Linked DNA regions of Homo sapiens: regions 2, 3 and 4 are each linked to region 1. The links come from fine-mapping of genetic effects on gene expression. A gene starts in region 1. Each other region holds a variant in brackets. All regions are shown on one strand. Distances are between the middles of the regions.

Region 1 (8,000 bases):
AAGTGATCTGAAGACATGAGTTGTAAGTTGTTCTTCACATCCTTTATCTTCTATGTTTTTCTGTACATAGTGGGTGCTTGCTTGATTTAAATGAGGGAAAAGTCCATGTCAAACAGGCAATTGCAAGGAATGATTTCAGTGAAGATTAAAAAACCAAGTAGGTTGCTGTTTTGACTTGAGTCCATCAAATAGCAAACAAAAAAATAAAGGAGCAACTGGTATCACATTTGCTCAAAAAGATCCCTACCCATCCACTTAAAAGGGGGGAAAGTTCCCTAGGTTCTGTAAAGAAAACAGTGACCAAGATTCAGAAGCATTATTCCCTAATTGTAATCTCTTACATTAAGTCAATTTCATTAGAGTCACAAACCAGAACAGGTACTTTGTCAATAAAAAACGTAAATGAATTTGAAGTTTCTTTAAACATATTAACAAGTTTTTTCAGTAGAATGTATGGCAAACAAGTATCTGGCATGCTGATACCAAAAAAAGAAGGTAACTTTAAAAAGACAAAAATGAGACCCAAATTCTACTACCAATTAAGCAGCAATTTCAAATTATGAAGTTCTATAACTCTGTACCTTCAACCTAGTTTACATTAATTCTCCCCTGCCCCATGGACCACCACGACTAATGAGAAGCTGTATCTTTTAAAAATGACCTCAAAACAGCTCATGTAATTTTCTAAAATTAATTTATTTAGCATGTTGTTTTTTTTCAGTCATTACATCTGTTGGGTCTCACAACCACCCAGTGAGGTAAAATAGAGATTACCCACTCCCATTTTACAGATAAAATAAATGAAGACCAGATAGGTTAAGTGACTAGCTCAAGGTCACAAAGCTACTAACTGGTAGTGTGTGAATTTCCAAGCCAGTGATGTTTTCCTTGCTAAGATGAAAACCTTAAAATAAAGCAGGATATTAAAACCTTGTCTAGATAACATAAATACAATAATCTTACAAGTTACACTGGGGCCGGCGTGGTGGCTCTCCCCTGCAATCCCAGCACTTTGGGTGACCAAGGCAGGCGGATCACCTGAGAGGTCGGGAGTTCGAGACCAGCCTGGCCAACATGGTGAAACTCTGTCTCTACTAAAAATGCAAAAATTAGCCGGGCGTGGTGGCGCGTGCCTGTAATCTCAGCTACTCAGGAGGCTGAGGCAGGAGAATCGCTTGAACCAGGAGGCAGAGGTTGCATTAAGCCTACACTGCACCACTGCACTCCAGCCTAGGCGACAGAGCAAGATTCTGCTTTAAAAAAAAAAAAAGTTACAATGGGAAAGGAATCATACATGGAATCATACATTACTACAAATTTACTTTGCCAGGTGAAAGTACTGATTTTACCGTGATCTACCTAGCATCCCATTCGTTTTTTAAATGTAACTACTTTAGTTTAGCACCTTCTGGAACCTAACTGCCAAAATTGTTCTCAAACTTTTTGAAAGTAAATGAAAAAAAAAAAGAAAAATAAAGCCTGTTCATAGACTCAAACTAAGTAGTATAAATGTCAGCTGAACAGACTTAAAAACTGCTCACACTCCAGAAAAACTGGGGATTGAATGGAAACAATGATAATCTTAATTACAGTTTTCCAATTCTTATGGATATTGGCACATTCATAGAAAGGCAGACATGTACAAAGCCCACAAACCCCAATCATATTATGTACTCTTAAGCTTAAAATAAAACTCCCTCAATCTCACAAAGATAGTCACAGCAGTTCAACATTTCTGGGGCTGAACACACAGCAGGAAGTGTCAAAAGAAAGAATTAGAAATTCTGTATACTTTAAAACTTACACTTAATATTGATCACTTTGCATGTGGTAAATATGAAAATCAGCCTCAATAAAATCCTCTACAATTTATTGTCTCTAAACCTCTGCTAATTCCATTCCTCAACCCCCCCGGGGTGTAAATGCGACACACACAGGCCTCATATACAGGCCTCTTGCCTTTTTTTCTAACACAACTAGGACCTTTGTTCTGAGCGTCGTTTTACCCCACTCAATAGCTCTTTCAACTTTCTACCCCGTATTTTTTGTTTTGTTTTTAAAGAGGAGACTCTGAGACTCAACTTGCTAGGTCTTTAAAAAATGAAATGCCAAAAATACCTAATGAGACTCTCGAGAGGAACATAAAGTTAAACACATCACTAAAGGGCCTACAAAACGGAGTAAAGCCCGGAGATCGGGTGATCTGGCAGCCCAGGCAAGATCGAGGACCGCGACTAGGAAAGGAGACAGCAGGAGAGCAGTTAGACGTCCACTTAGAACGGATTCACTGCGCTATTAACCGTACCCGCCTCCCCCCGCACCGGCCCAACCTTTACACACAAACACATTCCCTCCCCCAATTAACTAAAGAAGCAATTAAACTATGCCCACCACCAGACTCGATGCTTAGGCTAAACCTCCCCCAAAGTAAAACAGCATTATCAAAAAAACACAACATTTGTCTTAAGGGTTTGGAAGCTGCCCCTTCCGTTATCTCCTCACCACGTAAGGTAACCAATTCCCTCCTGTCCCCCACCAGGAGTTCAAAGTGTGATTTCCCCCCGATTTACATGTGTTTTTATGTTTTTCCGCATTTTTCCGTCTAGGAAATGAAGGATTTCTTATTCTGAGGAAGGGAGAGACGCCGAGGAAGACAGGATTTGAGGTTTTACTACCTTCGTTATTCGAACTCCCCTCTAACTTGTTCCTGTACTAGAAACCCACTCACTATGGAGAAGGAAGGAGAGGGGCTGAACTGATGGACAAACGTTGTAAATAATAGGTTTTATGTAATCCACATATAAATAAATTAATCGCCTGACTCGCTCTGAATGCTAATACGATTGGGGTGACAATTGGCCCACCTCCCTCCCCCAAGTCCTAGTTAAACCCACCTACCACCAATTTCCATTCTGATCTATTTAAAAGGATACTCTATTCCTCTCAGTCAAGTTTCTCGGCTTCTTTAGGCCTCCCTGCATGCCCCCCTCGTCATCATCCTCCCTCAGCCTCAACTTCCCACGGCTTAAAAAACTGCCCCGCGCAGACCCCGTCTCCGGGCTCGCCCTCCCTCAACCGTCCCTCGCCGTCCCCCTGGGCAGGAAACCCCTTACTGCGGTCTAAAGTCTCTCTGGCCTCTCCCTTCTCTGACCCTCGCTTCCCACAACTGTTGTCACTGGAGCTGCTTCCTAGTTTCCATTTCCGGGCCGTCCACGGCCCCGGAGCCTCCCCTTTCCCGATTTCCGGGCCCCTCGTCCCATTTCCGGGGAACCCTTGCCGTCTTCACACCCCCCACCTGCACTTCCGGCCCCCCACTTTCTCTCTTCCCAGACACCCTCCAAGCTCCAAAGCCCACTTCCGGCCCCCCTTGGTCCCCGCCGAGCTCCCCAACACCCGCAAGCCTTACCCCGGTTCTGTGAAGGGCCCTCCTCATTGCGGGAAGCCGGAGGAGGGACCCAGCGACCCCTACCTCCCGCCAGGCCCCGGTCCCTCCGGCCGCGGCCGCCCTCGAGCGTCTCTCCCGTCCACCCCCGGCCCGGTCCTTCCGCGGCCCCGCCGCCGCCGGCGCCGGGAGCAGGCCAAGCGGGGGCCGAATCGCGGCGATGACACAACCGGGCTTCCTGGGACTTTCTGTTCCAGCTCCTCCCCCCGCCCCCCCAACCCCTCAGCTGGCCCCCTCCCCCAAGGCTTGCCCCCGCCGCCCAGAGCTGCGCCCCAATTACCTAGTTAGGCCCCAAAGTCTCCGGTCCGGACTCGGTGGCGCGGCAGTAACTTCCACTAGCTCCCCCCACCCCCCCCAGCGGCGCGGCGGCGGCGGCTCCGGGTTCCTTCAATTATCAGCTGAGCCGCAGCACCGCGCCCGGCGTGCGCCTCCGCCCGTGCCGCCTCCCTCCCCGCCTGCTCTGACACCCTCGGGGAACTACTTTGTCCTCGGGCTCCGGTTACGGGCTCGTCCGCGGGACCGGCACCGCTGCCTACTGGCGGCCCATCACATCGCCCCTCCCTCCCACGCCTCCCGGCTCGACTCTCTCAGCAGCCTCCGATCTCCGCCCGATCCCTTCGAGGGACCAGGAAGGGGACTGTGGAGATCTACTTGGTATCCCTCCGCCGGGGTCACCCCCTCCCCTCCGTGGTAGCAGGAACTAATTCCCCCTCGGGTCACCCGGGACCTGGAGCTGGAAATTTCACGGATCAGGGTTCCCTAAGACCCTTGGAAGAGGGGACGATCGCCCCAAGTTAGAAATCCTTCTGCCAGCTCATAAGCGTGGTTCAATTTAAACTAGGGTTTTGGCCCCTTGACCCCAACCAAGCCCCGCCCCTTCCTGGTTGTCTTAGCGACGGCGGTGGCGTCCCAAGATGGCGTCGTGGCTGCCGGAGACTCTCTTTGAAACTGTAGGACAAGGCCCGCCGCCTAGCAAAGACTATTACCAGTTACTGGTCACCCGGTCTCAGGCAAGTGCGAGCCGCGGTTTACCCTCTCTCCTAACTCCCTACCTGGCCCGGTTGGGGCCCGGGACGCAGGCTGTGCTAGGCCAAGAGCAACCGTAGCCCGCCGGAAGCGCCCAGTCCCGGCTCCGCGCCGGGAGATTTTCCTCGTCACCTCGGCCTCCTCGGTCCGACGGCCCGCGTGTCCCTGCTCTCCCCGAGCCCGGCTAGTCCCTGGCAAGCCTTCTCTGCCTCCCCGCGGTGCCGCGTGCTCCTTTCCCGCCACCCCGGCTTCTTACCCGTAGAGTTTCCTCCGCGCGAAGAGGAAAACGGGCGTCTCCGGCTTGCGTGCGGCCTCACCTCAGCGTGAGAAGGAGGGAAAGAACGACTCAGCCAAGTGTCCCAAGGAGGAGCCGGCTAGGGAGGGGAAAAGGAGATTGCCTCTTTTCCAGGATAGGAATTAATCATGGAGAATTTTATAAATCTCTTTGTGGCCTTTACGCGTGCCACGGCCACATCAAAACTTAGTTATTTCTAGTAGCAACTGACGATTGGGAGCTCTTACCTTTTGGAGTCCCTTCTATCCCATTGAAAGTGTGCGGGTGGTGGTATAAAAATGTTTCAGCTGCTCTGCGCTTCAGCCCCACCCATAATGACATCTGCTCCACAACAATAAGACCGAGGATTATATTATCTCCAAAGTAACCATCGGCCTATTTTTATGCCTACTTTGGTTATTGAAGGTGGGCTTTTGGATGATTTACTGTGTCCATGAAATTCTCAACTTGAGCGGGGCCTCCATTGGGAAGACGTTTCTAATCCTGGCTGAGTTTACGCCTGTCACTGAGTTATTCATGCACCCTGCCCTTTCAATAGATACTATTCCTATAAAATGAAATTTAGAAGTTTGTATATATTTGTTTTGGTGTGCATATTGATCATTCCCTCAGTTTTTCCAGGAGCCCTTAAACAAAATAGGTAATGAGTTAATTTTTTTATATTTTTGAAAGCATCTTTTAAAATATAAATGTTAATATATATTTTTTAATTTAAGATTTAGAAATATTACAAATGTAAAATCAGCCTGTCCAAAAAAAATTTTTTTTAAAACAGTACTGCTCCTTGCGGAGCAGGGCTAATTCATAGGCAGTGGGCCCAGGGTCAGACTCAAATTTTTAATTAAACTGTTCTTAGGGGGTTTTGCACATTTAGTGATGTATGAAATACTGAAAGGTATCCTTTTCTGTACTTTTTTTTTGGTGTTGTTTTTTTTTTTTTTTTTTTTTTTTGAGACGGAGTCTCGCTCTGTCGCCAGGCTGGAGTGCAGTGGCGCGATCTCGGCTCACTGCGACCTCGTTTCACCATGTTGGCCAGGATGGTCTCGATCTCTTGATCTCGTGATCCGCCTGCCTCGGCCTCCCAAAGTGCTGGGATTACAGGCGTGAGCCACCGCGCCCGGCCTTGTACATTTTTTAAACGGATTATTGATTTTTCCATTTGTTTTAAGATTTGTTTGTTTATTTATCGAGAGGGAGTCTCCCTCTGTTGCCCAGGCTGGAGTGCAGTGGCGCGATCTCAGCTCACTGCAACCTCCGCATCTCCTGGGTTCAAGCGATTCTCCTGCCTCAGCCCCCCGAGTAACTGGGATTACAGGCGTGCGCCACCACACCCAGCTAATTTTTGTATTTTTAATAGAGACGGGGTTTCGCCATTTTGGCCAGAGTGGTCTCCAACTCCTGACCTCAGGTGATCCAGCTGCCTCGGCCTCCCAAATTGCTAGGATTATAGACTTGAGCCACCGAGCCTGGCTGGCTTTAAGATTTATGATCCTAACATTTCTTCACCTCCTAACATGAGTGGTCAAAAATATAATCTGTTCTAATCTTACATGATTTTCTATTTTTATCTACCTCAAGTAAGTTAGAATGTTTTAATTTTTACAGCCTTTAAAAATTTGTCTTTTTTTGCATTTTCTTTCCCCTGAAGGTCTGGTATTTTACAAGTATGCTTCATTTCTCTCATTTGTAAGCCTCACCAGGCTGAGTATCTTGTTACCTTTTTATTTTAGTAAATTATCCTTAGGAGTGCTCCCTGGCATTCGGCTTCCTAAAGAATAATTCTGTTGTTGGTGTTCTTCAGACTTTGCTCTCAAGTCTAACTTAGGCGCATGCCTTCCTCTAACTACTCTTTTTTTTTTTTTCTTTGAGGCAGCGTCTCGCACTGTCGCCCAGGCTGGAGTGCAGTGGCTCAATCTCAGCTCACTGCAAGCTCCGCCTCCTGGGTTCACACCATTCTCCTACCTCAGCCTCCCCAGTAGCTGGGATTACAGGCGCCCGCCACCACGCCCGGCTAATTTTTTGTATTTTTAGTTGAGATGGGGTTTCACCGTGTTAGCCAGGATGGTCTCTATCTCCTGGCATTACAGGCGTGAGCCACCGCGCCCGGCCCTAACTACTCTTTTTTAAGAAATCTTTCCCACCATCCCTTCAGTGTTCTTAATTTTTCTTTTTCTTTCTTTATTTTTATTATTTATTTATTTATTTTTTATTTTTTGCAAGTGAAAAACTCTCCTTTATCTCAGGTTCTGTCAGTTACATATATATAAAATCCTAAATTCTGATCCATTTTCTTTTTTAAGCATGCTGAATAAATCCACTACACTTCTACCAGTGAGAGTTAATCTCCAAGCTAATTAATTCACCCTCTTTTTAAAGTAAAATTTGTTGTAAAAAATGGCATGCCAAAAAAATATACTTTTCAGTCAACTGCCTTGAGAATATGCTATTTTCTAACCACAAGACAATTTTTCTGAGTCTCAGCACAGGAAACCAAACATCCAGTAAGAGGTGGCCTGACATAAATAAGTACTAAAAGACTAGCATTAAAATATGTTTTATAAGATAGATTTTTTTTCTGGAATGACTTTCTAAAATTATTTCTTGTACATTTCCTCCCCTTTCTCCTGTCTTTATTTTTTTAATGTTGTATATTATCCAAATTATGCCCCAGATTTAGATGAATCCTTCTTTCATGCTGATTCTGTTTTTTAGTCTCTTTTTCACTGCATCTTTTTCGTTGGCCTTAAATCCAAATAACTGCACATTTGACATGGATTTGAGGGCAGATATTTCTCTCATTAGTGTCATACCACCACTGACATAGTCCAGAATATAAATGTTATACATAAACATTTTCTTTGTTTATATAGTAACATTTGAAATATACTGTATGCTTATACAGGCACTTCTCTTTTACTGCTTGATACCATGTTGTTTTGGGTCTTGGGAGAGGGGTTTTATTCAAATAAATAACTTTTGGATTACAGCTTGGGGTCAGTTTAGTTTCTCGAAGCTGATCTTTATAATGATGATCTCCAGCTTTAGAAAAAATAGTGCGCTGCTTTCTAAATCAAAGATTCACTCAAGGGTTGGGCACAGTGGCTCAAACCTGTAATCCCAGAATTTTGGGAGGCTCAGGTGGGAGGATTGCTTGAACTAAGGAGTTTCAGACCAGCCTGGGCAACATAGCAAGACCCCTTCTCTTAAAAAAAAAAAAAAAAAAAAGGGGGGGCTGAG
Region 2 (8,000 bases), 160 kb before region 1:
AGTTGCCCTAATAAATGAATTACACTCTTTCTTTGCTAGTTAATGCTCCTCTTCATTGAGAAATACTGTCAACTGCACTGGAACAAAAATACTTAGTCATAATGTCTTCCCATTATTAAAATGCAAGATGGTATAATTACATTTGCCATATTATTTCTTACACTCAGAGAGATGGATTACATATCACTAAACAGCCATGACCTTGGATGATGGGTTTGATAATTTGCTAGAATTGTTCATAGAACTCAGGGAAGCACTCTACTTATGTTTATAACTCAGGAACTGGCAGATGGAAGAGAAGCATTGAGCAAGGCTGGAGATGGAGTGGGGGAACCTGCAGTGCCCTCGATGGACCACCACCCTGCCAGCGTTTGGATGTGTTCACCAACCTGAAAATCCATCAAATCTTGTTCAAAAGTCTTCATAGAGTCCAAGCGCTAGCTCTTCCTCCCTTTCCTGGAGGTTGGCGGGCAAGGTTGAAAGTTCCAGCACTCTAACTAACCACTGTGTCATCCTAGTGACCAGCCCCATCCTGAAGCTATCTAGGGACCTCATCCTGAATTACTTCATTAGCATAAACTTAAGTATGATCAAAAGGGGGTTTTAGGCCCTGGGGCGGTGGCTCACGCCTGTAATCCCAGCACTGTGGGAGGGCGAGGGGAGTGGATCATGAGATCAAGAGATCAAGACCATCCTGGCCAACATGGTGAACCCCAGCTCTACTAAAAATACAAAAATTAGCTGGGCGTGGTGGTGCACACCTGTAGGCCCAGCTACTTAGGAGGCTGAGGCAGGAGAATCGCTTTAACCTGGGAGGCGGAGGTTGCAGTGAGATCGCACCACTGTACTCCAGCCTGGCAACAGAGCAAGACTCTGTATCAAAAAAAAAAAAAAAAAAAAAAGTTGGGGGGATTATTTTATTTTTGAGATGGAGCCTTGCTCTGTCACCCAGGCTGAAGTGCAGTGGCACCATCTTGGCTCACTGCAACCTCTGCCTCCTGGGTTTAAGTGATTCTCCTGCCTCAGCCTCGTGAGTAGCTGGGATTACAGGCACCCACCACCATGCCAGGCTAATTTTTGTACTTTTAGTAGAGACGGGATTTCACTGTGTTGGCCAGGCTGGTCTCAAACTTCTGACCTCAGGTGATCCGCCTGCCACAGCCTCCCAAAGTGCTAGGATTACAGGTGTGAGCCCCCATGCCTGGCCAAAAGTGGGTTTTACCACAACATATAGTCAGAAGTACAGTTGACACTGTAACTAATTAATTATACATACACATATATTTTATTTGTATTTTTAGCTCAACTCTATGGAAGCAAATATATACGTATATTTGTAACTGAAATAAAAGTTCCACAAAGTAATACTTACCCATAGTACCTCCAATATACGCTGATATTTTTCTATTCTATACTCTATTTCATTTTTTACATTTTCAATTAAGGCGCTACATTTCTAGGTGCTACATTTGTGGAATTTAATTTTTTCTTCTTGTTATTTTTTCAGTATTTCCCACAGCAAAACATTTTGTAGTAAGACGAGAAATAAAAATCACTTAAAGATCATTTTCTTTCAAGTGGAACTGGGGCTCAAAAAATATTGACCAATGGGTGCAGTGGCTCACGCCTATAATCCCAGCACTTTGGGAGGCCGAGGCAGGAGAATCACTTGAGGCCAGATGTTCAAGACCAGCCTGGCTAACATGGTGAAAACATCTCTATTAAAAAATACAAAAATTAGCCAGGCATGGTGGTGCACACCTGTAATCCAAGCTACTCGGGATGCTGAAGCGGGAGGATCACTTGAACCCAGGAGGCAGAGGTTGCAGTGGGCCAAGATCATGCCACTGCACTCCAGCCTGGGTGACAGAGCAAGACCCTGTCTAAAATATAATATATATATATAGAGAGAGAAAGTATAGAGTATATATATATACTATATATATATATAGAGAGAGAGAGAGAGAAGCCAAGAGGGAGAAAAATCAGGCTGGGCCCTCAGTTGCATTTCTAACTTCTCTCTGCTGGGTTTGAGGCATGTTGGAGTCTAAAGCAGACACCTTCGTCTCTGCTCGTGTCTTTGTGGCTCCCACACAGCCGCCAGGGGTCCTGCACCTCCAGGTATTTGCAGCATCCTCATGTAGTCCCCTCCTACCCTGTGCCAGGATTAGTCTCTGGGACCAAAAGAATATAACACAAGTGATGAAATGCCACTTCCGTCATTAGGTTATAAGACTGTAGCTTCTGTCTTGTGTGTTCTCTCTCTCTCTTTCTCCCTCTCTCTCTCTCTCTCTCAGATCGCTTACTCTGGGGGAAGCAAGCCATTGTGTCAGGATACTCAAGCAGCCCATGGAGAAAGAGGTATCCAGTGAGGAGCCGAAGTCTCCAGCCAACAGTCACCGAGGAACTGAGGCCTCCTGCCAATAGCCATATGAATAGCTTCGAAGAGGATCCTTCAGCTTCCAAAAACTACAGCCCCTGTGGACTTATGAGAGGCTCTGAACCTGACAATCTGGTTAAGGCATTTCCCGATTCCTGACCATTGGAATGAGTAAGATAATAATGTTTGTGGTTTCAGACTGTTTGTTGTTACACAGCAGTGCCTAACGATTACACCCACCGTCCCAATGAATGGTCACTGGAGATCACTGAGCTGGCCCTGCAACCCCCGCCTAGGAGAGAGAAGAGAAAGTGTTTTTTATTTATTATTTTTTATATTTATTTATTTATTTATTTATTTATTTATTTATTTATTTTGAAACAGAGTCTTGCTCTGTCAGCCCGGCTGGAGTGCGGTGGCATAATCTCAGCTCATTGCAACCTCCGCCTCCCAGGTTCAAGCCATTCTCCTGTCTCAGCCTCTCAAGTAGCTGGGATTACAGGTGCATGCCATGACACCGGCTAATTTTTGTATTTTTAGTAGAGACAGGGTTTTGCCGTGTTGGCCGGGCCGCTCTCAAACTCCTGACCTCAACTGATCTGCCCACTTCGGCCTCCCAAAGTGCTGGGACTACAGGCATGAGGCACCGGGCCCAGCCAGAAAGTGGTTTTGTTGTTGTAGTTGTTGACTAACAGGGAGAAAGTTGATTGGAAGCCCATGGAGCAGGACAGTAGAAAATTACAGAACAAAAGTTTTATGGCAAATTTTGTCTACAAAACATCAAGTGATTGTGTTCAAAGCAGAAAGTGTGACAATC[A/G]AAGGCAAAGGCCATCTCTACAGCTCCTGTTCCGTTCATCCCATCATCAGTGAGGGTGAGCAAGAAACAAACTCACTCACCAAAAGGAACCCCAAAATAAGCTGCACTTATTAAACTGCTTCTTTAGTCTGACAAAGTGAAAAACTGGTTCCCACCTGGTTTCTTGCTTCCTGAACAAATATGGTGGGTGATCACTTCTGGGAAGTATGGGAAGAGGCAATTCTCTAGACCCGTCTCTTCAAAGATGAATCTTTTAGACTTTAGAAAAGATAACATTGGGACTCTCAACTCACAGGAATCATGGACGAAAATCTCTGGTTTTATGGAAAGGCCACTGGCTGGAAATCAGAAAACCTACATTCTACATCCAGGTGGAAACCTGGGTGATCTTGGGAAGGTCTCAACCTCTCTGAGCTATTATTTCCTCAACTAGGTATGAAGGGGTCTGATAAGCAGTACCTTAAATATCTTTCCAGCATTAGGATTACTTAAGGTTATATATCTCACTCCATTGTTAGCATAACAAACTATGTAATTTTAGGTGAAATATATCAACTGTATTATTTTTTAAATAGATGGCTGTATTGCCTTTTTAATGGACGTCCTTCCAGCTCCAAGAATCTGTACACCTCTACGTTTTGGGGTATAAAGAATCTGACCAATGGCAGTGGTTAGTAACATCCCAGTCCTACCCAGTCTCACATCCTAACTTGACAAATGGTCATTGAACAAGTTGGTGGAAACCAAGAAAACCCACTAGTACTTAACATTAAGATGGATTTAAAAGATCAAGAAATAAAACAAAAATAACATTTATTTCCTGAGTTGTTTTAATATCTGGTATTAATAGTGACACAAGTATGCAACTCAATATATATTTCAAAAGAAACCTGCACTTTTATTTTGGCATTAAAACTGTGTAGTTAACAATTACTTTATTTTGTTCAACTTGATTAGAATAGGATCTAATGCACACTCTTCAATCGAGTTGATCTGAAAAAGATAATCTAAGAACTGCAATAGAGGTTAGAAACTTAGAATTTTAGAACCCAAAGGGGACTTAATCGGTCTGCTTCCATAATTTTACAGATAAAAAATACCCAGTGAAAGTTACTTGACTTACCCAAGGTCAAATTCAAATAAGAGCCTCAGTTGTCTGAATTCAGAGCCCAGCCATCTTTCTGAAACACAACATAGCAGTAAAATAGAAACCTTCATAAAAAAACTTTATAAGTAGCAGGAAAGAGTTTAGTATTGAAATGTCAGTTTTTACCAATGTGTACAAAATTCAGAATTGAAATAAGCAGTACTACTGAGTTTTTTTTTTTTAAATCATCATAAAAAACCTAAAAACATAATTTAAATTAGAGCCGGAGCCTGTGAAAGTATTGGCAATGTAAAAAGTTGCTCATCTTTCCTGGGCTGTCTGTTCTAAATGGACTTTGAAAAAAAAAAAAAAAAGTATCACATTCTCTACTCATAATCTTCCAACTGATGGAACATTAGTTTGTTTTTAAAATGGACTTCTCCTTCTCCTGTAACTTTTTTTTGTGGTGATAGAAACATTGAGGTTTTCTTTTTCATTCATCATTTTTATTACATTTTTAACTTTGACCTGTGCTAATATACCTACTAACTCCTAGCACATCCTAACTTTGTCATGAATTTGAGTTTACTTCTGGAATGACATCTGATTTCTTTTAGTTTTATCTACATTGTCCAAGTGAACTGTTCACCAAAAACTAAATAGCACCATGTCAACAGGACATTTTGGCGAAGAACAAAGTGTCACCTATGATTACAGGCCAGTTTATACTGCTTCTGGTGGTGATGGTGATGTTAGGAGGTAGGTTTTCATACTCAGTGTAATTCTGTTGATTACCCCCAGCTTTCCTCTGGATTTTTCCAAATCCACATAATACTTAACTGTATACATAGTTGTTTCAATTTCATTTTCCTTTCTCCCTGGATTCTAAAGTCCTGAAGTAAAAGAGCACAGATTATGCAAACAACCTGACTGACAAAGAGGAAAGAACGCAACAGTACAGAAATGCTCATTCATTCCTTCAGTGACTATGTGAGTCTAGGCCAGGCATTATGCCAGGCACGAGATTTAAGAAAAACAACAACCTGATACCATGGCATCTCCTGCAGATGATAAAATGGGAAGACTGAACACAGTACACTAAAATATTTGTAGTACACTTAGTTGACCATGAGATCCAAACAAAAAACCTCCATGTAAAGGGAAAACAATAACTAACAAAAAGCATCTATTTCTTAATTCATCCATTTCACGATGAATGTCAAGTCGATCCGTGACTAAAGAGATTCGTCATCCCATCTGTCATAGTTTGAATGAGTCCTCCAAAAGTTCATGTGTTGGAAACTTGGTTGCCATTGTGGTGATGTGAAGAGGTGAGGCCTTTTGGAGGTGATTGGGTCATAAGGGCTTCACCCTCATGAAAAAATTAATGCCAATACCTTGAGAGTGGGTTAGCTTTTGCGTGTTTGGCCCCTTTTTCCTCTGTCTTGCATGCTTGCTTGCCATGTGATGCCTTCCACCATGGGATGACTTCACCAGATGCCAGTGCCATGCTCCTGGACTTCCCAGCCTCCAGAACTGTGATCCAAATAAATCTTTCTTTATAAATTATCCCGTCTTTGGTATTCTGTCATAATGCCAGAAATTGGACTGAGACACCACTCCTGCCCACTCCCATGGGTGTTAAGTGGGGAGGGAAGTTGGTATGTTGGAGAGGAAGACCACAAAACTTGCAGCTTTTTCTTTCTAAACACCAAAACACCATTGAATGCTTTGGGAGGAAATGGATTTCATATTCTCACCATCCATCCAGAATGCTATCAGAACAATGGAAGCAAATAAATCTATTACAACACTAAATTGTCCTTGGAGGAAAGAAAACTTACTTTGCCTAGTCTATTAGCCTATAATAATTAAAGACCAACTTTTTTTTTATTTAGTTCTAGAAAGTTGAAAAACCTGGCTTGAATACTTAACATTCTCATTAGAACTATTAAGCTTTTTCTCAATGAATTTAGTTATTAAGCCTGTTTTTATTGATCACAGGGGCAACTACAATGACATTTTCTGAATTTAAAGTCCTTTTAAAATTAGTTACATTTTAAACAAGCGGTTCTCATTTATGTAGGAGGCCAGAGTGGTAAGACAACGTCCTCCTAATCGAAGGAAGCTGGGTGAGAGGGATGTTGTGTGTGTGAGGAGTAGGGGAGGACAGGATTGTGGCTTTTTCTGACTAAAAATCGTCACTTTTACATTCCTCTTCTTATCCCTCTCTTGTGCCTACTTATAAATTCTGCAAAGGTTTGATTTGTCACTAACTATAATTATTGGCTGAATATAAAATCTAAATGCTTTCCAAAAGCTGCAACACACAATTACTGTTTTCACTCAGTAGATAACGCGTTGATATTTGAACTATCTGGAAGTAGTAAGGGGCATTTTGAGTTGTCATAATGACTGGAAGGTGCTATTGACATTTAGAAGCAAAGGGCTTTGCTGTAACCCTCTACCAGGAAGAACTGCATCAAGCAAAATGCCTATACCTGTTAAGAAATCCTGGGAGACGTTTTAAAGAATCATACAAGATTTGAAGAATGTTACCATTAAAACATAAAGCTGGAGATCACTGAACTGGCTTCACAAAAACACAGAGAGTAAGGTTCAGTGGGGTTAGCTTCCCCTAGCTGGGAAGACTGGAGCCAGGACTACATCAGGCCTTCTGACTCTGTCTGGGGCTCTTTCTGCTCCACCAAGTTTATTTTCACAAAGCCCTTTACACAGGTCTGTGTGAGTTATCATGATGCCAGGGACTCTGCCTGGATGCCAAGGGCTGCATGTTCTATTCTAAGTTTTGGAACACACTTTGGGAATAGGACTGACTAGGATGAATGAGTTTTAACAAATGTCCAAATTCCATCAAGAAACTGCAAGCTGAGCCCATCGGGTTTTCTTTACATTACTGTTAACTTTACAGATGATCATTTCAACTAACAGCAGCTGCCCCGTATAACTCTACAATTGCCCACGTTAACATTAACCAGTGTTTAGACCCCTTGCAATCTGGACTTGTGTTTTCTGCCCTAATATCCCTTAGTACAATCTTCTTGATAATAAATTGTTAATAGTGTCCCTAATTAACATTTTGATGTATCATAGCCACATAGAAGATACCAAAATCGATTCCTGAAACCTCAATTCCCAATGAGAGTGCAAGAATCCAGCATGTGTGCCTGGGCCTCAAAGCCACAATGGGACATTTGAGCTGGCTATGGGGCAGTTCTGGGACCTGCTTCCTTGCAATTTCTTGCATAGGAAGGACAGCGTTATTCCAGGCATCAGCACGACCCTTCTTCCTGCCCTTCTCACATCAAGTGAGAGGAGGAGCAACATAGGAGACCAGCTAATCTTTTTTTTTTTTTTTTTGAGACGGAGTCTCGCTGTCGCCCAGGCTGGAGTGCAGTGGCGCGATCTCGACTCACTGCAGGCTCCGGCCCCCGGGGTTCACGCCATTCTCCTGCCTCAGCCTCCCGCGTAGCTGGGACTACAGGCGACCGCCACCTCGCCCGGCTAATTTTTTGTATTTTTAGTAGAGACGGGGTTTCACTGTGCCAGCCAGGATGGTCTCGATCTCCTGACCTCGTGATCCACCCGCCTCGGCCTCCCAAAGTGCTGGGATTACAGGCGTGAGCCACCGCGTCCGGCCCCAGCTAATGTTGAGGTTACTAACCTGGCTCAAAAAAAAAGAGGAAGGAATGACA
Region 3 (8,000 bases), 72 kb before region 1:
TTCATGGAAAGATGCTGTAGACATCACTGAAATGACAAGAAAGGATTTAAAATATACATAAACTTAGTGATAAAGCAGCAGCAGCAGGGTTGGAAAAAAATTGACTCCAATTCTCAAAGAAGTTCTACTATAGATAAAATGCTATCAAACAGCATCGCATGCTATATTGAAATCTTTCGTGGAAGCAAAAGTCAATCAACGCTGCAAACTTTATCGTTTTGAAACTTCCACAATCACACCAACCTTCAGCAACCACCACCCTGATCAGTCAACATCTATCAACACTGAGGCAAGATCATCCACCAGCAAAAAGATTATGACTTGCTAAGGCTCAGATGATCATTAGCAATTTTTAGCAATAAAATATTTTTAACTAAGCCATGTACATTGTTTTTTTAGACACAATGCTATTTATTGCATGCTTACTAGATTACAGTATAGTGTAAGTACAACTTTTATGTGCACTGGGAAACAAAAAAATTCATGGAACTCACTTTACTGTGATTTTAATTTTCTTGTGGTGGCTGGGAACTGAGTGCATTAACATCTCCAAGGTATGCCCGTGTAACTATATTAATGGTTACTTTGGTAAAAATAAATTTAAAAAAATGAAAAGTAATCTATGAGGTTATAAAAAGGAATCACAGACTTTTATTTTAAAATAACTCAGTAATAATAAGACAGATTTTGCAGATAATGAGCTAAATCCCAAATGCAATTTTTAAAGCAAATTTTTATTTCCTAGTCAATGCACAGCATTTCATGCACTGATTTGTCAATATGAATTACAAATATTGGAAATGTCCAAAGGTATTCATCTAAGCAGTATTTATAATGAGGAGAAACTAGAAAGGAGCTAGATGCCCAATAACAGGGAATAGTTAAATAAAACAGTATGGTAATTAAAGTTGCAAGAAAACAGTTATTATTTAATAAGGATTTGAACATGTTGGCACTTTTACACAGCTGGTGGGAATTCATGTATTTCTAAGTGCAGTTTCAAAATATATGTCAATATCTAAAAAGAATATAACCAGTGACTTAACAAGGAAAGAGTGGTGTAAATTACAAAGCTATACTTAATTAGGGTACATCCATATCTAGCCATTACGAATGATGTAATTTATAGTTATTTGAAAGGAAACCACTCTATTACAAAGTGTTTAGACAAATAATGCACTTTTGTTTCTCCACAACTATTACCTTGCTCTGTCATTCTGAAGATGAAATTTAACGGACATCAAATGTCTATTTCAGAGCCTGGCCACATAACAGGCACTCAAAAAGTAATGCCCACTGTCATGTACAGCGAGATCATACTTTTGCATATGCCTAGCGAAGTGTCTCCCTTCTGGGTAAAGACAGAAGACTTAACACACATGCACTCACTTCTGTCTCCACATGAAATGCCACTAATACAGCATTAAAACAATCTGAGACATAAATCTACAAGGATGAGAAGAATGGAAGACACTATTGTTACAATACAATTTTAGGAGATGAAAACCAGAAATGCCGGGGCTAAATGCACTGGGAAGTCCAGAAAGCTGAAAGTAGAAAGCTGAGATTAACTACCAATCAAACTGACACCAGAGAAACCCAAAAAGGCTCAGGATCTGATGATGCCAGATACCTCTAGGGCAGTGTTGGGATTAAAACTGAAGATTGGCTGATAGGCTGTTTACAAGGCATCAGATCCTCAGATCCTCTCCCACACTTGTACAGCTGGGTAACCATTCCTCTCCTGGTTCCAGCAAAAAACAAGACCTTTATTCTTTAGGAAGTATAGAATATAGAAATTCCTGACTAAAGTACACAGTACAAATAGGTTCACTACACCAAAAATAAGAGGGAGAGAAGGGAATCGAGTACAGACATACTGTCTGACAATATACATTATCCTGCCTCCATCTGTGGCCTCTTCTCCCACTTGGCCCCCAGAACTCAGGCACTTAGGGCTTCACCTTGAGGCAGAAGTTTGAAACAATCTTCTCTGTGGAATTTTACCAGCTAAAGAAAAAAAGATCTAAAAATAATGATAAGAGGAAGTTTACAACAAAATGACCCAACCAGATCACTAAACAATGAATCTCGGTCAAACCTCCCTTATGTACTCAGAGCTTATAAATTAGACTTTTGGTCTTGAATTACACTTGAGTATGAGGAGACAACCAGGAATTACCAGAATTACCAGAATATGAGGAAAGTTCCTAACATGAAAGACAAAACCAATCCAAAATGCAGGCCCCCCCCGCCCCCCCCACACACACAAATACTTGAGATTACACAGGCAAAGAAAACTCACCATTAATGTCATCAAAAAAGAAATGCAACCATAAACCAAACGCATGATTCTATAAACAAGAAAATGAAAACAAAATCACCTCTTGGAAATAAAACATGGCAAACATGGGGGAAAAAAAGCATTTCAAGAGAAAAGTTGGAAGATGTAGAAATCTACCAGAAACAGAACGAAAAAGGAAAGCAATGTCAAACAGTAAGATCAAGACCATTTAAGAGGACAAGCACTCAATAGAAAATCAAGAAAGAGAAAACAAACAAGTACACGGTGACCAACAGTCCCAGTTTGCCTAGGACTATGCTGGTTTTAGAGCTGTAAGTCCTGAGTCTTCAGAATGCCCCAGATCCAGAGAAAGCAAAACCAGTTGGTCACCCTATCAAGGAATAAATCAGAACTAGGAATGGTGCCAGTATTGAAAGACAGAATACACTATATAATTCTTGAAAATTCTGAAGGAAAGTAATTCCCAACCCAGAACTCTATATTCACCAATCTGGCAAATAAATATCAGGGTGGTATAACATTTTCAGACATCTAAATTTTGAAAAAATAAATTGTAAATTATTAAAATCTCATACTTTTCCTTAGAGTCAAGAAGAAATATTCCACCAAAACAAGAAACCAAGATGACATGAAATCTAGAAAAGGGAAACTAAGAAGACTGAAGAAAATCCCAAGGCTGAAGCCGTATAACCAGGCATAATGAACAACCATCCAGAGGCCTCATTTCTTCAAGATGAAACAAATGCATGCAGACAGCTTGAGAAAAGATTGTGACAATTAGTAAGGAATGTGGAGTTTGAGTAAGTTCATGGGAAAGTAAGGAAAACAACAACAAAAAGGAATTTAAAATTCAGGAAAAGCAAAAATGTGTGAGAAAGGAAATGTTCCTTTACGTGGCTCAGTGTAAATAACATTTAGATGTTCACGATACAATAAACCCTGCGTGCTGATCATCACTGGGAAGACAGGAAGTATGTAACAGTATGTGTTTGGTAGGTGAATGGGGTGGGGTAAGGTTAGAATGCAAAATCTTCATTTTCCCTAAGGGGAACACAACAGGGATCAAACACTTGGGGGTGGGGGAGAAGAATCAACAAAGGGACATATAAAAGCACATAATCTAGACACTGAAACTTCAAAATAATCAGCCACAGAAAAGGGCAAAGTGGCAGAAAGACTGCTTTAAAAAAAAATAATAGATCTGGCCAGGCATAGTGGCTCATGCCTATAATCCAAGCACTTTCGGAGGCCTAGATAGGAGGATCGCTTGAGTCCAGGAGTTTGAGACGAACCTAGGCAACATAGTGAGACCTCATCTCTACAAAAAAAAAATCTTTCTAAAAAAATTAGCTGGGTATGGTGGCATGTGCCTGTGGTCCCAGCTACCCGGGATGCTGAGGTGGGAACACTGTTTGAATCTTTTGAGATCAAGGCTGCAGTAAGCTATGATTATCTTCTTGAAGAAGAAGAAAAAAAAGGTCTTATATAACTCTTTCACTTAACACTGCACATAAGTGTTGATAAATATAAAGTGAAAATTTTTGGCATAATACACACCAAAAAAAAAAAAAGAGGTAGCCCTTGGTGAATGAAATTAAAAGTGATTTTGTATTTTTCTTCTTTGTATATTTTGGTACTTTCTGGATTACTTTTAACAAACATATATCAGAATCAGAAGTGTCAAAACCATTCCAGAATACACGTAAGAATATAAAGGGCAATTACTAATGTAAATTGAGTAAAACATAATTTGGCTAATTTAATTCTTATTTTGACCTTGCATACAAAACAATATATAACATGGCCATTTATAATTTCCAAACAATGTAATACAAAGCAAAGCCTTGTTAACAAAGAAGTCAATGCTGTATTTACAATTAAATGATCTCTTTTTTAAATTTGGCCACTTCTGTT[TAA/T]AGTTTTTTTAAAGCCTCAAAAACACTAGGATTATTTGTTAGTAATTTTTCAAAGCGGTCACATATTGGAACTTCTAAACTTTTAAGTTGCTAAATTACTTTAATAGCTGCCTTGTAATATAGAAAACTGACACTCAACCCATTTCCTTTTAAGCTCCCTGCCCAACTCTTCACAGAGCTCACAGATTATCTACCTTTTTCACGCAAGTAGAGATGATCCTGCAAGATGCAAGTTGGTGAAACTGAAAGGTGACAGCGTGTGGCAGTCCTCACAGCCCTCGCTCGCTCTCGGCGCCTCCTCTGCCTGGCCTCCAACTTTGGCGGCACCTGAGGAGCCCTTCAGCCCACCGCTGCAATGTGGGAGCCCCTTTCTGGGCTGGCCAAGGCCAGAGCCCACTCCCTCAGCTTGCAGGGAGGTGTGGAGGGAGAGGCGCGAGTGGGAACGGGGGCTGCACCCGGCGCTTGCGGGCCAGCTGGAGTTCCGGGTGGGTGTGGGCTTGGCGGGCCCCACACTCGGAGGAGCAGCCGGCCCTGCCGGCCCCAGGCAATGAGGGGCTCAGCACCCGGGCCAGCGGCTGCGGAGAGTGTACTGGGTCCCCCAGCAGTGCCAGACCACCGGCGCTGCACTCGATTTCTCGCCGGGCCTTAGCTGCCTTCCCGCAGCGCAGGCCTCGGGAGAGCAGCCCACCATGGCTGAGCCTTCCCCCACCTCCGTGGGCTCCTGTGCAGCCCAAGCCTCCCCGACGAGCGCCGCCCCCTGCTCCAGGGCACCCAGTACCATCGATCACCCAAGGGCTGAGGAGTCCGAGCACATGGCGCGGGACCGGCAGGCAGCTCCACGTGCAGCCCCGGTGCAGGATCCACTGGGTGAAGCCAGCTAGGCTCCTGAGTCTGGTGGGGACGTGGAGAACCTTTATGTCTAGCTCAGGGATTGTAAATCGGCACTCTGTATCTAGCTCAAGGTTTGTAAACACACCAATCCGCACCCTGTGTCTAGCTCAGGGTTTGTGAATGCACCAATCGACACTCTCTAGCTACTCTGGTGGAGCCTTGGAGAACCTTTGTGTCAACACTCTGTATCTAGCTAATCTGGTGGGGACATGGAGAACCTTTAGTGTCTAGCTCAGGGATTGTAAATGCACCAATTAGCACCCTCTCAAAACAGACCACTCGGCTCTACCAATCAGCAGGATGTGGGTGGGGCCAGATAAGAGAATAAAAGCAGGCTGCCCGAGCCAGCAGTGGCAACCCGCTCGGGTCCCCTTCCACACTGGAAGCTTTGTTCTTTCACTCTTTGCAATAAATCTTGCTACTGCTCACTCTTTGGGTCCACACTGCTTTTATGAGCTATAACACTCACCGCGAAGATCTGCAGCTTCACTCCTGAAGCCAGCAAGACCATGAGCCCACCGGGAGGAAGGAACAACTCCAGACGTGCTGCCTTAAGAACTGTAACACTCACCGCGCAGCTTCACTCCTGAGCCAGCGAGACCATGAACCCACCAGAAGGAAGAAACTCCAAACACATCCGAACATCAGAAGGAACAAACTCCAGACGCGCCACCTTAAGAGCTGTAACACTCACCATGAGGGTCCGCGGCTTCATTCTTGAAGTCAGTGAGACCAAGAATCCACCAATTCCGGACACAAAACCATGTATCTAACTTAAATTCATCTCTCCTGCTTAACTCATTCTTATTTCCTCCCTCCGTGCTAGGGGCCCAAAGCACTAAGTCTTCCTAATCTAATCAGAATCTCTTTTCTAGAATTTGGCTTTTGCCTGGTTCTTGTCTAGGTCTGATAAAAACCACAGGCTACATGCAAAGTCACCAGGAGAATATGAAACTCAAGACAAAAGTAAGCTGTTAACTACTGCTATGTTACTAATAACGTGCACATGATGTCCACTTTAAATAATAGAGAGTAAAGTAGATCTTCAATAGAACATCTGCCTGGAAATATAACTTAAGTTTTTCTATAAACAGGTTCCATAATTACTCAGATTTTGATCACCAATTGTTTCTTATAATTCTATACCATCATCATCTACTCACTTTGAAATTATTGCAAATTTTTTTTTAAATTAGCTTTTATAAGAAGGTAGATTAGCAAAATATATTTTGAAGCCAAACTATTATAAAATTATTTAAAGTATATTAAAATATAAAAAGATTTTTGAAGCCATCTATATCATTATATTACCCTACTGGTTTTATATTTATGCTGTATAAAATTTGCAAAAATGTCTACTTACTTAGGCTAAACAAGAGACAGCTATAACTTCCTAATGTACATTAAAAATTGTTACATAACAATTTTCTTTCTGGGGTACTCAGGAGACTTTTACCAAGTAACACAGAATGACCTTTGTCTCAGAGCTGTTTTGATGAGATACAGCTGGCAAGCAGCAATGCTTCAGGAAGTCTATCACTAAAGTAGCGGTTTCACTAGATCTTCTGCCAGCCCTAGTGCCTCGCCGGGAACTTGTTCATTGGTCTATCAACAATTGACTAAGCAGCACAATAACAAGGTCTTCCTGTTTAAGCTTCCTCACTAAATGTATTATATCATTTCCTGAGTGTATTCCATGAACCACTACTGGTTCCCAAGTAATAGCTGGTCAAATTAATTTGCAAATTATTGGGTTAAGAAGTTACTGCAAGTCTTCCCACAGCTTTCAATATATTCCTGCTTATCTAGAATCTCCTTGAATAATACTTGAACATGGAGAATGGTTTTTCATAAAGCATCTTAAAAATACTGTTGTTCCTACAATTTTTAAAACATTTCCTTTACTATGAAAGCTCTCCTACTGACCAATTATGTCTTAGAATAAGTCTTTACCTAAGGAAACACATCACATTCAAATAGGTTCAATTCTTAAAAACTGGAAGAAAACAAAGGATATCCAAAATAAAATAAAAAACCTACCCAATGTGAAATTTCTCACAATGGCCTACTCTATTTTTAATATAATTTTTAGATTTTTATTCTACTAAGATTTGTATTAATCAGAAGCCCATCTCTCAACTTTCATCCACCCACTGAATCTAATTCTGGCCTCTGAATTAACGTTAAAACAAAAAACCCTGATGCATACAAAAGCCCTTTAAATACATGACCTGGCTGGGCGAGGCGGGCAGATCACCTGAGGTCAGGAGTTCGAGACCAGCCTGGCCAACATGGCAAAACCGCATCTCTACTAAAAATACAAAAATTAGCCAGGTGTGGTGGCACCTGTGAATCCCAGCTACTTGGGAGGCTGAGACACGAGAATCACTTGAATCCAGGAGGGGGAGGATGCAGTGAGCAGAGATCACACCACTGCACTCCAGACTGGGCGACAAGAATGAGACTCTGACTCCAAAAATAAATAAATAAATAAAATACATACATACATACATACATACATGACCATAACTCTCAATTCAACATTACATGGTACATTACAATATGTTGCTGCATTCTATGGCACTTCATATGTGAAAACAACTTTGAAAATCTTTCATTTATGCTTCACAAGGAGGAATCTTATTATTTTGCAAATAAGATTAGTAATAGGGTTGGTATCATAACTACAGCTGAATGATTTGCCCAACCTCGCCAAACTATGAGGAGATAATATTTTTTAAAGCAATGTACATGTATTAATATTGACATTTTTGTTTTCATTTATGTTGATGTATCCATTTATATAGGTTACATGTTTACATATAAAATTATGCAATTTTATTTGTATATATATTCCTAGTTTTGACTTTCTTGTGTAAATTTAAGGG
Region 4 (8,000 bases), 100 kb before region 1:
TATCTGCATCTGGGTGGCAGGTGAAGAAATTGTTCTATCCTTTATCAAACTCTGCCAGAGCTGAGCCATCCAAATAAGAACAAGCAGAATAAGGATTGTCACCTTGTATTTCACAGGCTTTTCTTTACTCAGCTCTCTCACCAAAACTCAAGCTATCTCCATAATTTGATAATCTCATCAAATGGGACAATATGATGTATAAATCATAACTTCATTTTCTGTCAGCTTTACTGGATATACAAAAAAGATTTACATGGCATTTAACTGTAATTTCCAAAATAAAACATACCACAAATGTAAATGTTTATGTTTGTCTTTTGGTAGTGTTTGATTTAGACTCAAATTTTAATCTTAAATTATACCTAATTTCTTTAATTTTGGACAAAGAAAATTATCAATCCACTATTTAAATGCTGTATTGTGCTAAGGTGCCTACATTTGATAATGGCAATTTTTCTTCCTATTGTTTTCATATTTAAAAGTTTAAGGAATCAAGCTGTTAATAAATCTATCATATCAAAATATCAACTCACAACTGTGTTGAAAAGGCATTAAAAAGATTTTTTAAAGTCTTTTATTTCTTTTTCTGAGACAAGAGTTTTGCTCCTGTTGCCCAGGCTGGAGTGCAGTGGCGCGATCTTGGCTCACTGCAAGAGATTAGAGCGATTCTCTGCCTTCCAGGTTCAAGTGACTGTCCTGCCTCAGCCTCCTGAGTAGCTGAGATCTACAGGCACCTGCAACCATGCCCGGCTAATTTTTGTATTTTTAGTAGAGATGGGGTTTCACCATGTTGGCCAGCCTGGTCTCCAACTCCTGACCTCAGAAGATCCACCTACCTCGGTCTCCCAAAGTATTGGGATTACAGGCGTCAGACATTGCCACTGGCCAACATAAAAGCTTTTAAACTGAAAGGATCCACATATATACCATATGGCTTGAGTAGTATTCCCATGTAGACACGTACTAAATATGAAACCTTTCTGGCCCCCCGACACAACCCAGAGTGAGCTTCCCTGGCCTATTGCTCCGTGGATCACCAGGCTAAAAGAAAAAGCATGTGCATTTTACATGGCAGGAGTCAAGGTTACTGATGAGGTGAACAACTTAAAACCAGTCATTTAAGTATCAAGAAGTGGGTGACTATTCATCAAAAAAATGATTTAGAAAATTTGCTAACTCATTAGCAATTGCTCACAGTATCTGTAAGCATGAAATACAAGCACCAAGTCATATACTCCTCTCTTAACTCTATCATGTTTTAAAAATTAATAATGACAATAATCATACATTCAGTACAAAATCGGCAGATTTCAGAGGACAAATGAGGTAAAAACGAGGGAAAAACATTATGCTTACCAAAGCTGGAACAACACTCTTGACAGGAAACCCTCCCAGTGTCTCCTCATTTCCCATGACCAGTAACTGACACATCTCAATAACTGCCTGAAGCTGTTGACTTTCATCACTGGCTTGCAATCCTTGTAGTAGCTGCTGGGCCTTAGAACCTTTAGAGAAAAAAATAATTATTATCTTTAAACATTTAAGAAAATTATTACTAGGTATAAGGTGTGACTCGAAATGTAATTGGTTGCTTATCTTCTTTGCATCCTAATGAAAGACTAGGTCTATACCAGGGTTAAGGCTCACTGCTAATACATTGAAGGAAGAATTAAATTAGTTGGATCTACTCTGCCTTAACATGCTTTCACAGTTATATACTTCTGTCTTCTTAATTGAAAACTTGACTGGTTTTACAGCAAAAACAAAAAATAATATCCCTAAGACCAGTATGAACTGATAGCTTTAACATTATCTGTTTTAAGGAAATATCAATTGTGAGCAAAGGCTTGCTACAATAATAAAAACCTGTTAAACAATGATGCCCATACTTCAAAGGAAATGTTATACACCTCTAAATATCTGTTCCAGAATAAATAGAATCCAATTAACAATGAAAGGGCAAGGAAATAAAAAACACAACAACGTATCTAACAAAAAAGAGAATGGAAAGAATATTCTGTAAAAATAAAAACCACACACACACACACACACACACACACACACACACACACACACACAATTATAAACCCTTGCATCCTCTTTCATTTCCTGCACAGATGATGGCTATTAGAATGTTCCTACTTTTAAGACTTAATTCCACTACTCCAACAATTGAAAAATGTGAATACTCAACAACCACAGAGAAGTACGTTGTCATTAAGCTAAACAATACACTCCAAAATAAAGTCTAGAGAGGCTGGGTGCAGTGGCTCATGCCTGTAATCCAAGCACTTTGGGAGGCCAAGGCAAGTGGATCACTTGAGGTCAGGAGTTTGAGACCAACCTGGCCAACATGGCGAAACCGCATCTCCACTAAAAATACAAAAATTAGCCGAGCGCAGTGGTGTGCACCTGTAGTCCCAGATACGCAGGAGGCTGAGGCAGGAGAACTGCTTGAACCTGAGAGGCAGAGGTTGCAGTGAGCCGAGATCATGTCACTGCACTCCAGACTGGGCCACAGACTGAGACTTCATCTCAAAATTAATTAATTAATTTTAAAAAATAAAGTCTATGAATGTGTTTCATTTTTCATGGACACTTTCCTACTTGAAACCACAATTAATTAAATTAACACTTAACCAATCTTATATGATGTTACTTTTAAAGCTCCTTCACTTCTTACACCTTTTCAAGTTATTCTTCGCAAATTGGACTTTTCCAGTCCTATATCATTGAGTACTGAAATGTGTAGAAATGGGATATATGTCTGGAAACTGTCAATGAATGTGAAATTCTCAAAAAACTGAACCTAATAATTTCAACTGAGCTTCAGTGATATTCCTGGGGGCGTACACCTCTCACAGGGGCACATAGCAATCAATGGAAGTTGTTTTATGGTTTAAGATTGTGGCTACTGCATTCCATAGCTATCGCTGCCTACCTACCTTTACCATAATTAAAAATCCATCCAAAAATACACCAGAAGAAAAGTTCAGGGAAATACAATTTAACAATTTTAAACTAAATAATACCAATTTTAGTGACAGCAGGTTTATCACTTCTGTGTTGACATAATGTGGAAGGAAAAACAAAATGATAGAAAAATAGTGAAAACAAATGAATCCTCCACTGATTCTAACATGACTTTAAAAGGATTAAACAGTTCATATCAAGTATGGCCTAAGAGCACAACCCCCTAAAAGAAAGAACCAACATGTATGCAACTAGATGGAGGTCTTATAACCATTGGGGTTGGCAACTCTTAAGGACATGGATCTTATACAGCATAATCAAAATTATCATCAATACCAATAAAACATCTGGGATGTTCCTAAAAATAACTTACACTAAACTGAAGATGACAACAAAAAGCCAAAACCATAACCAAAACCTGATTTATCCTCTGATTTATGAGGAGAAACCAACTCCTAGAGCAGTGGATTTTGAATTTAGAATCATTTTATACTCTTAAAAACTACTGAGGTACCACAAAGCACTTTTGTTTATGTGGGTTATATTTATTGATAATTTTAAAATATGTTAATTGAAATACAAAAATTTTAAATATTTGCCAGTTAACTCATTATATATTAATATAAATAATTTTGATTTTAAAAGACCTTATTTTCCAAAACAAGTGGTGCGGTCTCAGCTCACTGCAACCTCTGCCTTCTGGGTTCCAGCGATTCTCCTGCCTCAGCCTCCCAAGTAGCTGGGATTACAGGCACAAGCCAACACACGTGGCTAATTTTTCTGTATTTTTAGTAGAGATGGGTTTCACCATGTTGGCCAGGCTGGTAGTGAACTCCTGACCTCAGGTGATCTGCCCACCTCGGCCTCCCAAAGTGCTGGGATTACAGACATGAGCCACCGCGCCTGGCCCAAACACTGTATTTCCAATCTGAATTTGGTTGCTAATGTAGAACTCATGGATACAGAAAGCTAACTGTATTTATTTTTAAAATCCATGAATAAGTGGACCCAGCACAGTTCAAACTCATATTGTTCAAGAGTCAACTGTATATAGAAAAGATTGGCCTTATTTTGTTCCAAAGAGTATTAAAAAGACATGTCTTGGGAGTAAAGACCTAATTAAATTAACTTTGGTTCAGTAAGGGCATCTTAGATAAAAACTGAATTATATTTATTAGGAGTATGTGGCAGTGAAAAACACAATGATTGCTAGTACCGTTTAGTGCCACTGCTTTGATGCTTAAGATCCCACCAGTTTTACCCATTACAGCTTTTGCACCATCAGTTCAAACATCAATGAAGTAGAAAAGGAAAAATCTTGGTAACTATTATTAGTTTTGACCTTATAGAACTCATTTAAGGGTCTCTCTCAGAAACCAAGAGTCCACAGATCACACTTTGAGAACTGTTATCACAGATCAGGGTTTGGCAGGAAAACGTTCTCTTTCAAGGGAGAGATAGCAATTATTTTGGGCTTTACAGGCATATGGTCTCTACTGCAACTACTCAACTCTAGCACTGTAGCTGGAAAGTATCCATAGAAAGTAAGACTAATACAAACAAATGAACATGACTGTATACCAATA[A/T]AACATTATGGACACTGAAATTTGATCTGCATTTAATTTTCACATCACAAAATATTCTCTTTTAAAATGTTTTCAGCCACGTAAAATATAAAACCCATTCTTAAGAGTACACAGGTAGTATAAAAACAAGCAGGAGCGTGGATTTGGCCCTTGGGCAGTAGTTTGCTAATTTCTGATAGGAATGGAAACAGAAGCCTATAGTGCTTTAGGGAGTCACAAGAAGCTAATGTGTTGAAATCAACTGGCCCACAGACAGGTACCGAGTTCTGGAACTGTGAAAACTGATAGAGGGGCCAGATACCCTGGCTCACACCTGTAATCCCAGCACTTTGGGAGGCCAAGATGGGCGGATCACCTGAGGTCAGGAGTTTGAGAACAGCCTGGCCAGCATGGTGAAACGCTGTTTCTACTAAAAATACAAAAATTAGCCGGGCGCGGTGGTGTGCACCTGCAGTCCCAGATACGTGGGAGGCTGAAGCACAAGAATCACTTGAACTCGGGAGGCAGAGGTTGCAGTGAACCAAGTTCACGTCGCTGCACTCCAGCATGAGCGACAAGAGCGAGACTCCGTCTCAAAACAAACAAACAAACAAACAAAAAACTGATAGAGGGGAGAGTAAGAAGTTTTGATAAGATAGAAGAAAATCTTCTGCAGTCTCATGGTGCTCAGAAGCCAACATCTCAACAGAGAGAGTAGGCGTCAAAGACACACAGCTGGTACCTGAACTCCCAAGATAATCTGCCACATTTTGAGACTGCTCAACTATTCAAATCTGAACTCCCAAGATACTTGCCACATTTTGAGACTGCTCAACTATTCAAATCTGAGGAGACATAGATTTGCAAAGTTGTCAATCAAAATTCTAGGAGGGCCACAACAAAGAAAACAGTGACTAGCAAGAGGTGAAATGAGTCATACCAAAATTACCAGAGGTGAAATTAGTCATACCAAAATTACAACTCTGGTTAAAACAAGCTCAAGTCCTGATTAAAGTTAGAGTGATCAGCTCTGGACCCTTTATTTTTGGTAGAGAAAAAAGAAAGCTAGCACTAGCAGAAAATATCATTTTGGGCCACTTTAGTTCTTTTATACAAAACGTCTGTCACATAACCAAACAATTACTAGACTTATAAAGAGGCAGGAATATGGGACTGAGAATTAAGTGGGGGAAAAAAAGACAATAAAAGCAGACCAATACTTCTAGAATGAAAAGACAAATGTTTTATAAAGTATTAAAAATACAAGCAAAGATGGACAAAATTGATTAAGAATATACACATTTTCAACAGATGATTGGCATCTATAAAGAGAATCAAAAAACTATTCAGAACTGAAAAACGTATCTGAAATTAAGAACTCATTGACGGGTTTAACAAAAGATTGAAGACAGCAGAAAAAAGAACTAGTGAATTTAAAAACTGATCAATAGGAAGTTTTCCAACTAGGCAAAGAGAAAAAATTCTGAAAACAAAACCAAAAATAAAACAGAGCCAGAGAGACATGCTGGATGCAGTGTAAAGTTTAAATGTGTATGATCCTGATACTCTCCAAAAGGAAAGGAAGGAGAAAATCTGATGATGAGATAAGAGAAACAATACTAGAAGAAATAATGACCAAGAATTTTCTAAAACTGAAGATATCAACTCACATATTCAAAAGTTCAGTGAAGGGCAAGCACATTAAGGGTCAAGGAAACATCACTTAAACCCTATATAGTCAAGCTATTAAAAAATAAGTGGTTTTTACATTTTTTTTGAGACAGGGTCCCATGCTGGATTGCAGTAGCCCGATCTCGGCTAACTGCAACCTCTGCTTCCTAGGCTTGGCCAGGCATGGTGGCTCACGCCTGTAGTCCCAGCATTTTGAGAGGCCGAGGTGGGGTGGATCAGGAGGTCAGGAAATCGAGACCATCCTGGCTAACACGGTGAAACCCTATCTCTACCAAAAATAAAAAAAAAATTAGCCAGGTGTGGTGGCAGGCACCTGTAGTCCCAGCTACTCGGGAGGTTGACGCAGAAGAATGGCGTGAACCCGGGAGGCGGAGCTTGCAGTGAGCTGAGATCGCGCCACTGCACTCCAACCTGGGCAACAGAGGAGACTCTGTCTCAAAAAAAAAAAACAACAACAACAACAAAAAATAAGTGCAAATAAAGCACATGCCTGTAACCCCAGCAACTTAGAAACTGAAGCGGGAGGATCACTTGAGGCCAAGGGTCTGCGACTAGCCTGCGCAACATGGCGAGATGGCATCTCATTAATTCATTCATAAATTAATAAAGACACATCAAGGATTTCTCAAACACAGAAAGAAATCATTATTAATAGTCTGACACTATGTTAAAAAAAAAAGTTCTTTAGGCTAGAAGGAAACAATCCTTTAAAGAAAAAAGAAACTGCAAGAAGAAACTAAGAGCACTGCAAAGGTTAAGCATGTTGGCAAACATAAAAGAAAACAGATATTCTAAGTAACGTCCTATCAAGTTTATAACACGTATATATAGGTAAAACAAATTAAATACAACAAACATAAAGGAGGGCAGGAGGTAAAAAGTGTTAATAAACTGTTGTAAGGTTCTTGTACTGTTTGAGATATGATAAAGTATTAATTTAAGGTATGCTATAATAAACCAATGAATTTGCATTATACTCTCTAGGGTACCACTAAAAGAAATATACGAAGATACATATAACTAAAAAAAGTTAATATTAGAGAAACAATGAATTTTGGTAAAAATTCAAAAGCTTGATACCATACTACTGTCATTCACACATGACTGGTGGAAACGCAAAATGGTGCAACTCCAAATGGGGGGGAGTTTGCAACACCTACAAAAACATCGTATGCATTTACACCCATTTAAGCAGCAAACCTGCTTCTAGAAATCTATCCAAAAGATAATGCTTGAAAAAATACGAAAGCTACATTTCACTGAAGCCTTGCCAATAGAAAAAAAAACTGAAAACTCAAATGTCCAACAGGGGACTATATAAATAAACTATGTATACCCACACAATGGAGTAACGTGGCAGCTTTACAAAGGCCTATCAGTTGAACATGCAACATGCATGTGGCAGCTATGAAGAGTGAACACGAAGAGTGAACACCAAAATATAGTGTCAAAAGCAAAGTAAAGTGTATAAAGTTTGCTACTCTTAACTGAGAAAGGCATTCCCATGGACAATATAGATATTTATGGATTTTTTAAAGTAAATAACAGAAGGACAAGGCATAAAATTTAAAAGATTATTTATGTGAGAGGAAGAAGCAGGGAAAATGGAAAGCAAAAGAAGATAAGATTTTTCTAAATATATGTTGTTTGTAGATTTGACTTTTAGAACTATGTAAATATTACATAATTATAAAAGCAAAACATAAATTTTAAAAAGCAGTCCCTAAAAATCAGAAGCAAAATGAAGTAAATGAAACAATCCAACTTGGT

The links. PIP is the estimated chance that this variant, and not a neighbour inherited with it, causes the effect. A credible set is the group of variants that fine-mapping cannot tell apart.
Region 2: its variant is the best candidate, but not a certain one, in a credible set for the expression of TRIP12 in whole blood (INTERVAL, PIP 0.62).
Region 3: its variant is the best candidate, but not a certain one, in a credible set for the expression of TRIP12 in blood mononuclear cells (TOPMed, PIP 0.54).
Region 4: its variant is the best candidate, but not a certain one, in a credible set for the expression of TRIP12 in whole blood (INTERVAL, PIP 0.88).

Annotation. Positions count from the first base shown.
Region 1 is chr2:229,918,158-229,926,157 of GRCh38, forward strand. TRIP12 (thyroid hormone receptor interactor 12) reads right to left here and starts at 3,852. Exons shown (of 42, transcript NM_001348323.3): 1 at 3,723-3,852. It overlaps FBXO36 (F-box protein 36), which reads left to right and starts at 4,346. Exons shown (of 4, transcript NM_174899.5): 1 at 4,346-4,452. The coding sequence starts at 4,357. RefSeq lists enhancers at 2,170-2,269, 2,907-3,407, 3,408-3,908, 4,565-4,624 and a silencer at 3,345-3,734.
Region 2 is chr2:229,754,909-229,762,908 of GRCh38, forward strand. No RefSeq gene overlaps it. Among named protein-coding and RNA genes, the nearest start is that of DNER, 44 kb to the left of the region's middle. The variant A/G (reference allele first, on the strand shown) is at 3,198.
Region 3 is chr2:229,846,073-229,854,072 of GRCh38, forward strand. All of the region lies in intron 4 of TRIP12 (thyroid hormone receptor interactor 12), which reads right to left. Among named protein-coding and RNA genes, the nearest start is that of TRIP12, 72 kb to the right of the region's middle. RefSeq lists enhancers at 4,084-4,763, 4,764-5,442. The variant TAA/T (reference allele first, on the strand shown) is at 4,220.
Region 4 is chr2:229,817,008-229,825,007 of GRCh38, forward strand. It overlaps TRIP12 (thyroid hormone receptor interactor 12), which reads right to left. Exons shown (of 42, transcript NM_001348323.3): 9 at 1,357-1,505. Among named protein-coding and RNA genes, the nearest start is that of TRIP12, 100 kb to the right of the region's middle. RefSeq lists a silencer at 5,222-5,422. The variant A/T (reference allele first, on the strand shown) is at 4,560.